2 separate regions of the Homo sapiens genome follow, and region 1 is linked to region 2. Evidence: fine-mapped expression QTL. A gene starts in region 2. The other region holds a variant in brackets. All regions are shown on one strand. Distances are between the middles of the regions. Region 1 overlaps MCPH1 (microcephalin 1). Region 2 holds the start of ANGPT2 (angiopoietin 2).

Evidence for each region. PIP is the estimated chance that this variant, and not a neighbour inherited with it, causes the effect. A credible set is the group of variants that fine-mapping cannot tell apart.
Region 1: its variant is the best candidate, but not a certain one, in a credible set for the expression of ANGPT2 in tibial artery (GTEx, PIP 0.51).

The regions. Positions count from the first base shown.
Region 1 is chr8:6,491,234-6,496,233 of GRCh38, reverse strand. All of the region lies in intron 11 of MCPH1 (microcephalin 1), which reads right to left. Among named protein-coding and RNA genes, the nearest start is that of ANGPT2, 70 kb to the left of the region's middle. The variant G/A (reference allele first, on the strand shown) is at 2,050.
Region 2 is chr8:6,561,124-6,566,123 of GRCh38, reverse strand. It overlaps ANGPT2 (angiopoietin 2), which reads left to right and starts at 2,879. Exons shown (of 9, transcript NM_001118887.2): 1 at 2,879-3,477. The coding sequence starts at 3,190. The region is part of intron 12 of MCPH1 (microcephalin 1); the gene reads right to left. RefSeq lists enhancers at 3,010-3,536, 3,537-4,062 and a silencer at 4,922-5,000.

The sequences.
Region 1 (5,000 bases), 70 kb after region 2:
ATGCTCCTTATGAGAATCTAACGCCTGATGATCTGTCACTGTCTCTCGTCACCCCCCGATGGGACTGTCTAGTTGCAGAAAACAAGCTCAGGGCTCCCACTGATTTTACATTACAGTGAGTTGTATAATTACTTCATTATATATTACAATGTAATAATAATAGAAATAAAGTGTACAATAAGTGTAATGTGCTTGAATCATCCCAAAACCATTCCTCCCTCACCCTCCCAACCCCCAAGTCCCTGGAAAAATTGTCTTTCACAAAACTGGTCCTTGGTGCCAAAAAGGTTGGAGACTGCTGGTATAAAATATCACTGATTAATTAAAAATCAAATCTGATAGTTAGAAACTTGTCCCACAGTCGTAAGCCATAGGAATGTAGTTGATTTCAAACAGTTCAAAAGTATGTTTTACATTCCGCTTTACTGGATGATACTTTAGGAGTAAAGTTAGACACATCTTTACTTTAATCACTGAAAGTGATTGGGGTGTTTTTGCCACTATCTCCTCCATCCACCCTTCACTCCACCAACTGTGGTAAAAAGTGTGGTTGTAGGTGTTTATGGAAGGTGTAGAAACACATTATTTATTATAAGCGTAACAAAAGTAATAATTATTAACTTTTTACTAATTTAAGCTGACAAAATTATAAAAATCAAATTACAAAGATTGTTCTCATCAGATTTTATAGATCCTTTGTCTTAGTAGTTAGGGCAATTGATTTTCTCAAACAACATTTATGAGAGTTTGCTAGTTTGTATGCTGTTTTGGATTTTTCTAAAGAAAGAAGAAGATTTGGGATTCTTCCCCAACTAGACAGTGTAACATACTGGTTAAAAGCACAGAATTCAACAACTGGGTTTAAACCAATGTCCATCTTTTTACAGATTTATGACAAGGGGCAGGTTAGTGTTTCTGCCACATGAAGACATTATGCATCATTATTAACTAAAAAAGCACCCATGTAGTTAATGAAATAGTGTAGCAATGAAGTTATTTCTAGGTTATACTGAACTTCAGGAGAAAAAATTGGGGATGTCAATAGTATAATTTTTAACAACAAAATAATAGGGTACTTATGTCCAAAGCATTTTCAAGCCAGAAAATAAAGGTCTAGTCTTCCAAAGAGACCAGCTTGAACTGGCAAAATTTCAAGCCAATAATATCTGTTCCAAAATAAGCTATTCTTCTGTATTTCCAACACATCTCATAACATCAAGAAATGCTTCCTATAATTCCATAAAGTTCTTTTAAAAATACAAACCTATTTAGTAGTTGTAGTGGTGCCTTAAAGCTATTTTCCATATATGACTTTTTTTAAGTGAGGTGAAATTGGCATAATATACAATTAACCATTTTAAAGTGTGCAATTCAATGGCATTTTATATCATGATGCTGTGCAACCAGCTCCTCTTTCTAGTTTCAAAATGCTTTCATCACCCCAGAAAAACATCCTGTACCTGTTAAGTAATCACTCCCCATCCCTCTCTCCCCTCCATCCCTGGTAACTTCTAATTAGTTTTCTATTCTATGGATTTACCTATTCTGGATATACTGTCTGAAAGGAATTATACAACATGTGCTTTTTGTGTCTGGCTCCTTTCACTCGGTGTGTTCAACGTTCATCCAAGTTATACTTTTAATGAAGGCTAGTGATCAGCGTCAAAAATGCTTGTTGAATAATAACGATATTTAATATTTATTGAGTGTTTACTGAGTACTTTATTTAGGTGATCTTTCCATTCTTTTACAGATAAAGAAACTGCCTTACCCAAGGTTACACAGCTACGGTGTAGCAAGGTTAGCAGTGAAATCCACTGCCTTATCCATTAATCTTTTCAAAACACACAGGCCATCAGAGAATGCCCATATCAAGGTTTACAGCTATAGAAGATAAAAAATACTCTCTAGGCTATCTTTGGAAGTAGATGCTAGAAAGAATGTGGGCTATGAATTGAGGAAGAGCTGAATTCAAATTCAAAATTCACCATTTCTGGCAGGATGCAGTGGCTCACATCTGTAATCCCAGTTCCTTGGGAGGCCAAGGTC[G/A]GCGGATCACTTGAGGTCAGGAGTTTGAGACCAGCCTGGACAACACGGTGAAACTCTGTCTCTACAAAAAATAAAAATTAGCCAGGTGTGGTGGCATGCACCTGTAATCCCAGCTACTCAAGAGGCTGAGGCACAAGAATTGCTTGAGCCTGGGAGACAGATGTTGCAGTGAGCCAAGATCGTGCCACTGCACTCCAGCCTGGGCAACAGAGCGAAACTCTGTCTCAAAGAAAAAAAAAAAAAATTTACTATTTCCAAGCACTATGACCATGAGCAATTTACTGAAAGTGTTCAAGCCACAGTTTCCACAGAGGATTACTGTCTTGACTAACAGCTTGACGATGTGTAAAACACTGACAAAGTAGCTCCGCATCTCTAAATGTTCCATGTGACTAACATCATTGGGACGCTGTCTCATCTCCACCCCCGAATACGACAGAGATCCCCGGTCATATTTTGTATCCTGGGGACCTAATGCTGGGTCACAGGACTAGCAGCGTGGACCTCACCTCAAGCCTGAGCAGACCCAGACCCACTGAACCAGGATCTGCACTTCAGTAAGATCCCCCAGGTGATCCACACATTAGTAAGGTTTTGAAAAGCACTGCTCTAGCTGTCTCATAAAGAAAGGGGCAGGAAGCTAAATATCTAACACAGCCTATTCAACCAAGAAAGGGAAGATAAGCAATAAAGTACTAAAAGTATATAGTTAAGAACCCATTTCCCTTTTAGAAGACATTGACCGATAGAGACTGAATTCCAGGTGGTGAGAGGGAAAACAAGCTGCATGTTGACCTAGGCTTGAATATTCTTATGAAAAAGCTCACCTCAATTGAACACAAACATTTAAGTTCAATTTATTCTCCTTGCATTCTACCTAATCCTTTCCAGTTTTCAAAAATGAAAATGGGTGATTCTCGATGTTAAGGCTTAACTGCTCAGTAATATTCACTTTATAAATACAGCTAAGCAATGACCAGGAAAACCCAGCATGTCACCACTGTACTCACATGTGAAGTCCAAACATCTTTATAAATAACTAAGTGCGTACTTCTCTTATCAAAAGGAAAACAAAGAAATAAATATAACAAATTCCAATGCAACTAAAATAAACAGCAGAAACATCACTTCACTGTATGAAAACACAGCAGAAATTATTACCAACACAGACAATAAACCAAATATTATGGCTACTAAGAGCAATCACTATTTTTTGTTCACATTAAGGGCAAAAGCACTTGACTCTGCCATAGCCTCCCTAGAGCCACGTACCAGGAAGTAGACAATAGTATTTACATGGCAAAGCGCAGTATGCAGTCTCTGTACTACCCAAGAGTACAATAATTTAACAATAATCCTTATCAGTTAATCAATTAATTACTTAACTCAATCAATAATTCAATAATGAAAGATTATTAATTTTATAATATTAAATAATTATTATTAATATTTATTTGATAATTTAATATAAAATATTTATTTTTAAAAAAATTTTAAATTTTAATATTCTAAAAATTTAATATTAACTATTTAATATTAATATTATTAAATAATTGTTATTAATGATGAATAGCATAGAAATATGCTATTTCTATAGCATAGAAAACCTTGGCAATAATATTCAGGACACAGGCATGGACAAGGACTTCATGTCTAAAACACCAAATGCAATGGCAACAAAAGCCAAAATTGATAAATGGGATCTAATTAAACTAAAGAGCTTCTGCACAGCAAAAGAAACTACCATCAGAGTGAACAGGCAACCTACAGAATGTGAGAAAATTTTTGCAATCTACTCATCTGACAAAGGGCTAATATCCAGAATCTACAAAGAACTCTAACAAATTTACAAGAAAAAAACAACCCCATCAACAAGTGGGCGAAGGATATGAACAGACACTTCTCAAAAGAAGACATTTATGCAGCCAACAGACACATGAAAACATGCGCATCATCACTGGCCATCAGAGAAATGCAAATTAAAACCACAATGAGATACCATCACACACCAGTTAGAATGGCGATCATTAAAAAGTCAGGAAACAACAGGTGCTGGAGAGGATGTGGAGAAATAGGAACACTTTTACATTGCTAGTGGGACTGTAAACTAGTTCAACCATTGTGGAAGTCAGTGTGGCGATTCCTCAGGGATCTAGAACTAGAAATACCATTTGATCCAGCCATCCCATTACTGGGTATATACCCAAAGGACTATAAATCATGCTGCTATAAAGACACATGCACACGTGTGTTTACTGTGGCACTATTTACAATAGCAAAGACTTGGAACCAACCCAAATGTCCAACAATGATAGACTGGATTAAGAAAATGTGGCACATATACACCATGGACTACTATGCAGCCATAAAATATGATGAGTTCATGTCCTTTGTAGGGACATGGATGAAGCTGGAAACCATCATTCTCAGCAAACTATCACAAGGACAAAAAAACCAAACACCGCATGTTCTCACTCATAGGTGGGAATTGAACAATGAGAAGACATGGACACAGGAAGGGGAACATCACACACCAGGGCCTGTTGTGGGGTCGGGGGAGTGGGGAGGGATAGCATTAGGAGATATACCTAATGCTAAATGACGAGTTAATGAGTGCAGCACACCAGCATGGCACATGCATACATATGTAACAAACCTGCATGTTGTGCACATGTACCCTAGAACTTAAAGTATAATAAAAAAAAAAGAATACTAGAAAAAAAAATACATGTTCTGAGCAATGCTTTTAAAGCTAATTGTCCTTCTGTCCTAATAATAATCTTTAGCAGCTAAAAAAAAAAAAAAAAAGAAAGAAACCATAGACTCTACTTCTGTTTATCGAAGTAAGTGGTAGGTGTATTCTCCATAAGTGAGACATTATTCTGGAATTGTGTAAATTATTCACCAAACATTGCAAAGCACTCTGACTTCTCAGAAATACTTTAATTGTA
Region 2 (5,000 bases):
AAGCTTTATTGGAGCCCAGCACGCTCACTCAGTTAATGCTGTCCCACAGCTGCTTTGCACCGCATTACCTTTGAGTGGTGGCGATGGTGGCCGTATAGCCTGCAGAGCCGAAAATAATTACCATCTGACACTGGACAGAGTTTGCCAACTCCGGCTCTACTAGAGCTTCCCCTGACTCTCTGGTTCCGATAATTTCCATTTAGGAATCTACAAAGAGCTGTTCCTTCCATGTTCGGAACTTGAGGGAATTTGAAAAGGATGGAGTCCATGCCAGCTGCACATGGCATATTGTGCACCCGGAAGCATCACTGTCTTTCTTTGTGCTCCGACTGCTCTCTCTTACCACATCCAATTTGTTTATGGGTCTCTCCCTCTCCATACACTATTAGCTTCTTTAGGTCAGACACCCAGTTGCCTTAATCTCTATCCCCAGTGCATAGCATGGTGTCTGACACAAGGCTGGTAGACAAAAAGTACTGTGGTGTGCCCTCTTTCTATTTGTTCCTTTTAAACTACTCTATTTGCCTGGAAGACAACTGAATGACTTTTAAAACCATATATGCAGGCCAGGTACAGTGGCTCACACCTGTGATCCCAGCACTTTGGGAGGCCAAGCAAGAGGATCATTGGATGCCAGGAGTTCAAGACCAGCCTGGGCAACAAGAGTGAGACCCCGTCTCTACAAAAAATAATCTTGAAAAAAGGTAAAACCACATATGTGATATTAATACCTTACAATATGCTTTTTCAAACAGGAAATAAAAAAATTGTACCCTATGCCACTGCCACTGCTTTGCATTCAGAGAATAGCAGAGTTATACTATTTGATGGTGGAAGAACTGATCCCCATTTAATGGAGCATGCCTGTAAAGAAAAGGAACAAATATTTCTAAACATACAATTATATCTTAATCCTAAAAACCCTACAGAGAAAAAATGATCTCCATCTTATGACTAGGGAGACTGAGGCTCCAAGAATGGAAGCATTTGCTGGAGGTCACACAGAAGCAGGGTTCTAACACAGGTCTCATCTTTAAGACCTATATGCTTTCTTCGACGGTGCACTGTCCGGATGGGTATAGCATCTTTAATTGGTTCCCTTAGTGGAAACCATGTCCAGAACCTTGGTGGAATCATACTACCTCTTCTACTAATGAGATCCTTCCAGAGCATGTCTTCCAGCTTTTCTGTGTGACAGAACCCTTTGGTTGTCTGGTGAAGCCTATAAACACCTTCTCAAAAGAAGACACATGCTACTTTATTCCAATGTTCAGTAGCAAGATCTAGGGCTGGGTTTAATAAAAATGTAGTTCTGAGTATTGTGGCAGCAAATAAAAAGAGCTGATTTCTGAGGATGAGAAAGTCACAGATATTCACACTGTTGTTCGTTAACTATTCATTGATAAGGGAAAGGCTGTCTTTCGGTTAGAGCTTAGTAAAAAATAAAGATCTTTTATGGGTAGATGTGGTCTGTTAAGTCAGTGTACCAGCTATTCAGCGCTCACTGGGAATAATAAACCTTGTACCTTGAGAGATAAACCGCAGCAAAGGCAGGGGGCTTTTTCCCTATGTACACTTGGGCTGCTGAGTTAACATATTATTAATCTCTGAAGTATTAAGTTTTAGTTGTTAAAGGAAGTGACTTGCAGAACTTACAGAGCCATAGGATTGAAGGTGAAAAATCTTGTGAGTGCACCCCTTGAATTGCACAGATGAGGACATTAGAGCTTAATTAAAACAGGGAAGTGACTTGCCCGAGTCTAATACCAAGGGGGACTAATGTAATTGATAATGTGTTACAAAATGCTGAGATGTCAACAAATTCTGACACAATAAAGAAGTTTGTGGGCCAGGCATGGTGACTCACACCTGTAATCTCAGCACTTTGGGAGGCCAAAGGCGAGTCGATCACAAGGTCATGAGTTTGAGACCAGCCTAACATGGTGAAACCCTGTCTCTACTAAAAATACAAAAATTAGCCGGGTGTGGTGGCGTTTGCCTGTAATCCCAGCTGCTCAGGAGCCTGAGGCAAGAGAATCACTTGAACCCGGAAGGCGGAGGTTGCAGTGAGCCAACATTGCCCCACTGCACTCTAGCCTGGTCGACAGAGCGAGACTCCGTCTCAAAAAAAAAAAAAAAAAAAAAAAGTTTGTATTCCTCTTTCTACACAGGCACTTAAATTCTAATTTCTCTATTGTAATGTAATGAACTTAATCAGTACAGTGTATTTTTAGAGTGAATATCCAAGTGGAGTTTTTTTAAAGAATAAAGGTCAGAGCTCAGAAACTGATGTTTCTAACGTGACTTAATAACAGATCTTTCTATCCAACTGTTCGGAAATGAAAATCTTTTGTAACTTGGCTAGTGGTTCAAGAATCAACTAAAATCAATGAATCTATTTTTCCCTCTGAAAAGGCACACGTTTACAGGAGCCAAACTTCTTCCTCTTTATTTGTAATAACAAAAATAAACCGAAGTCCTGACCTATTTGTAATATTTTTATTCCTAAAGGAAAAAACAGGAACTTTCATTGTACTTCAACATTAAAGTTATTACCTCAGATATTTTGCCAGCTTAGCACGGCAAAAATCAGTTTCAGACAAAAGAGATCAACTGCTCTCTCTAGGAAATACTTAATTGGGGTGGTGCCTAGGAAATGCCCAGGGGTCCTGTAACAGATCGGTTTTTCCCAGAGGGTTTCTGCAGCATGGGTCCTGGTTGGAGGGCAGGCATTCTGCTCTGATTTTTCCTGTTGCCTGGCTAGTGACCCCCTACAGGAAGATAACGGCTAAGCCAGGAGGGCGGAGCAGCCCACTACACATGTCTGGCTGCTCTTATCAACTTATCATATAAGGAAAGGAAAGTGATTGATTCGGATACTGACACTGTAGGATCTGGGGAGAGAGGAACAAAGGACCGTGAAAGCTGCTCTGTAAAAGCTGACACAGCCCTCCCAAGTGAGCAGGACTGTTCTTCCCACTGCAATCTGACAGTTTACTGCATGCCTGGAGAGAACACAGCAGTAAAAACCAGGTTTGCTACTGGAAAAAGAGGAAAGAGAAGACTTTCATTGACGGACCCAGCCATGGCAGCGTAGCAGCCCTGCGTTTTAGACGGCAGCAGCTCGGGACTCTGGACGTGTGTTTGCCCTCAAGTTTGCTAAGCTGCTGGTTTATTACTGAAGAAAGAATGTGGCAGATTGTTTTCTTTACTCTGAGCTGTGATCTTGTCTTGGCCGCAGCCTATAACAACTTTCGGAAGAGCATGGACAGCATAGGAAAGAAGCAATATCAGGTCCAGCATGGGTCCTGCAGCTACACTTTCCTCCTGCCAGAGATGGACAACTGCCGCTCTTCCTCCAGCCCCTACGTGTCCAATGCTGTGCAGAGGGACGCGCCGCTCGAATACGATGACTCGGTGCAGAGGCTGCAAGTGCTGGAGAACATCATGGAAAACAACACTCAGTGGCTAATGAAGGTAGGAAAAAAATCCATCTGTCTTTGTGAACATGCTATTAAGATCAGCTTGGCAGCAGCTCAGGTTTTAACAACCAAAAAAAAAAAAAAAAAAAGAAGGAGGATGAAGAGGATTAGAGCTGGAGAGCGGGTTGCTGGTACCCTCAAATGAAAGATAATTTCTTTTATTCTATCCCAGGGTGTGTGGGTAGTCCCCGGGGTGAAAATAATTATTTGGAAAGAATGCCAGAGTCAATACAGAAAATCTCTAAAGTTAGAAATCTTTATTAACAAGGTAGAGGAAATATACTTCCCTGCACAACTTGTGTGCCGTTCTGTTTGTTTACATCGTTTAAGCTCAGTAACACCCATCACCAGGGAGGCTCTCAGCTGGTTGCAGGCAAGTGAGGGAAGGCTGTGAGCCGCAGCAGCCCGTGAGCCAGAGAGACCGTGACAACCATGCTGATGACCGAGGCATAACGGATGGAGTAAAGTGCTTTACCAATTTCCTGAATTTATTTACTAAAATAGGTTGTGACTCTTGGTAAACGAGAGGAAATTAAATAAAGCAGACCTTATGTTTCTCAGAATCTCAGGGCCCTACCACTAAGGGCTTGCCGTCTGTAAACAGGGGCACAGTTCCCAAGCGTCCCAGAGGTATTCAGCACTGCAGCCCCCGTCAGTTCCAGCAACCGGTGCGGAATGCGTCCCCACGTGGGACGGTTATGTTCAAGTCATGCCACGACAGGACGGTCTGTCTGACAGTTTGTTCTTGGGGTGATTCCACTGTTTCACAGATGATCCCACTGTTTCCTAGAGTTTTTATGGAGACGTAACCAAAATAGGATATTGAAAGCTCTGTTTTTCTTTCATAAATAATTTTTTTTCACATGTAAACATGGGAGCTATTTATACAAAATCCAAAACGAACCTGGAATTTTCTTTATATGGACTATATATATTCTAAAGGAAGTTTAAACAAAATGCATAAATTAATTGTTAAGTAGCATGATGATGCCATTACATCACAATGCTTACATGGCAGGGAATGTGATTATCTAAAGCTATGTAAAGTCTTTTAAAAGTTGGTGAGCCTCATTTGACGCATGACCCTAGAAAAAGCACAATTATTTTCTCACTCTTTCATTTCACCATAAACCTTTTGTTAGGACACCTTATCTGAATCTCAGAACGGATCTTGGAGCCTAATCGGTGCTCCTCATTACCTCCCCTACCTTCAGAGAGGAAACGACTAAGTTATTATTTGAGTCATGAGCTTAAATGAATGAATGTGAATGAATGTTCCCAGCACCACTGGTTACTGTGTCAAGAGGAGTCATTTAAAACAACAAAAACTTACCAAAATGACCTATCAAATGTAGATTTCATGTGACATAAAACTCACTAGCAATGTCTTTTTAAGCTCCTGGCTAAGCGCTCCAGTAAGTTTCCCTCCTTTCCCAGGTCACTGTGGTTTGCTTTTAAACATCTTCTAAAATTCATAGCTGTGTGAATAATTACGCTAAGCTTAAAAAGTATGCAGCA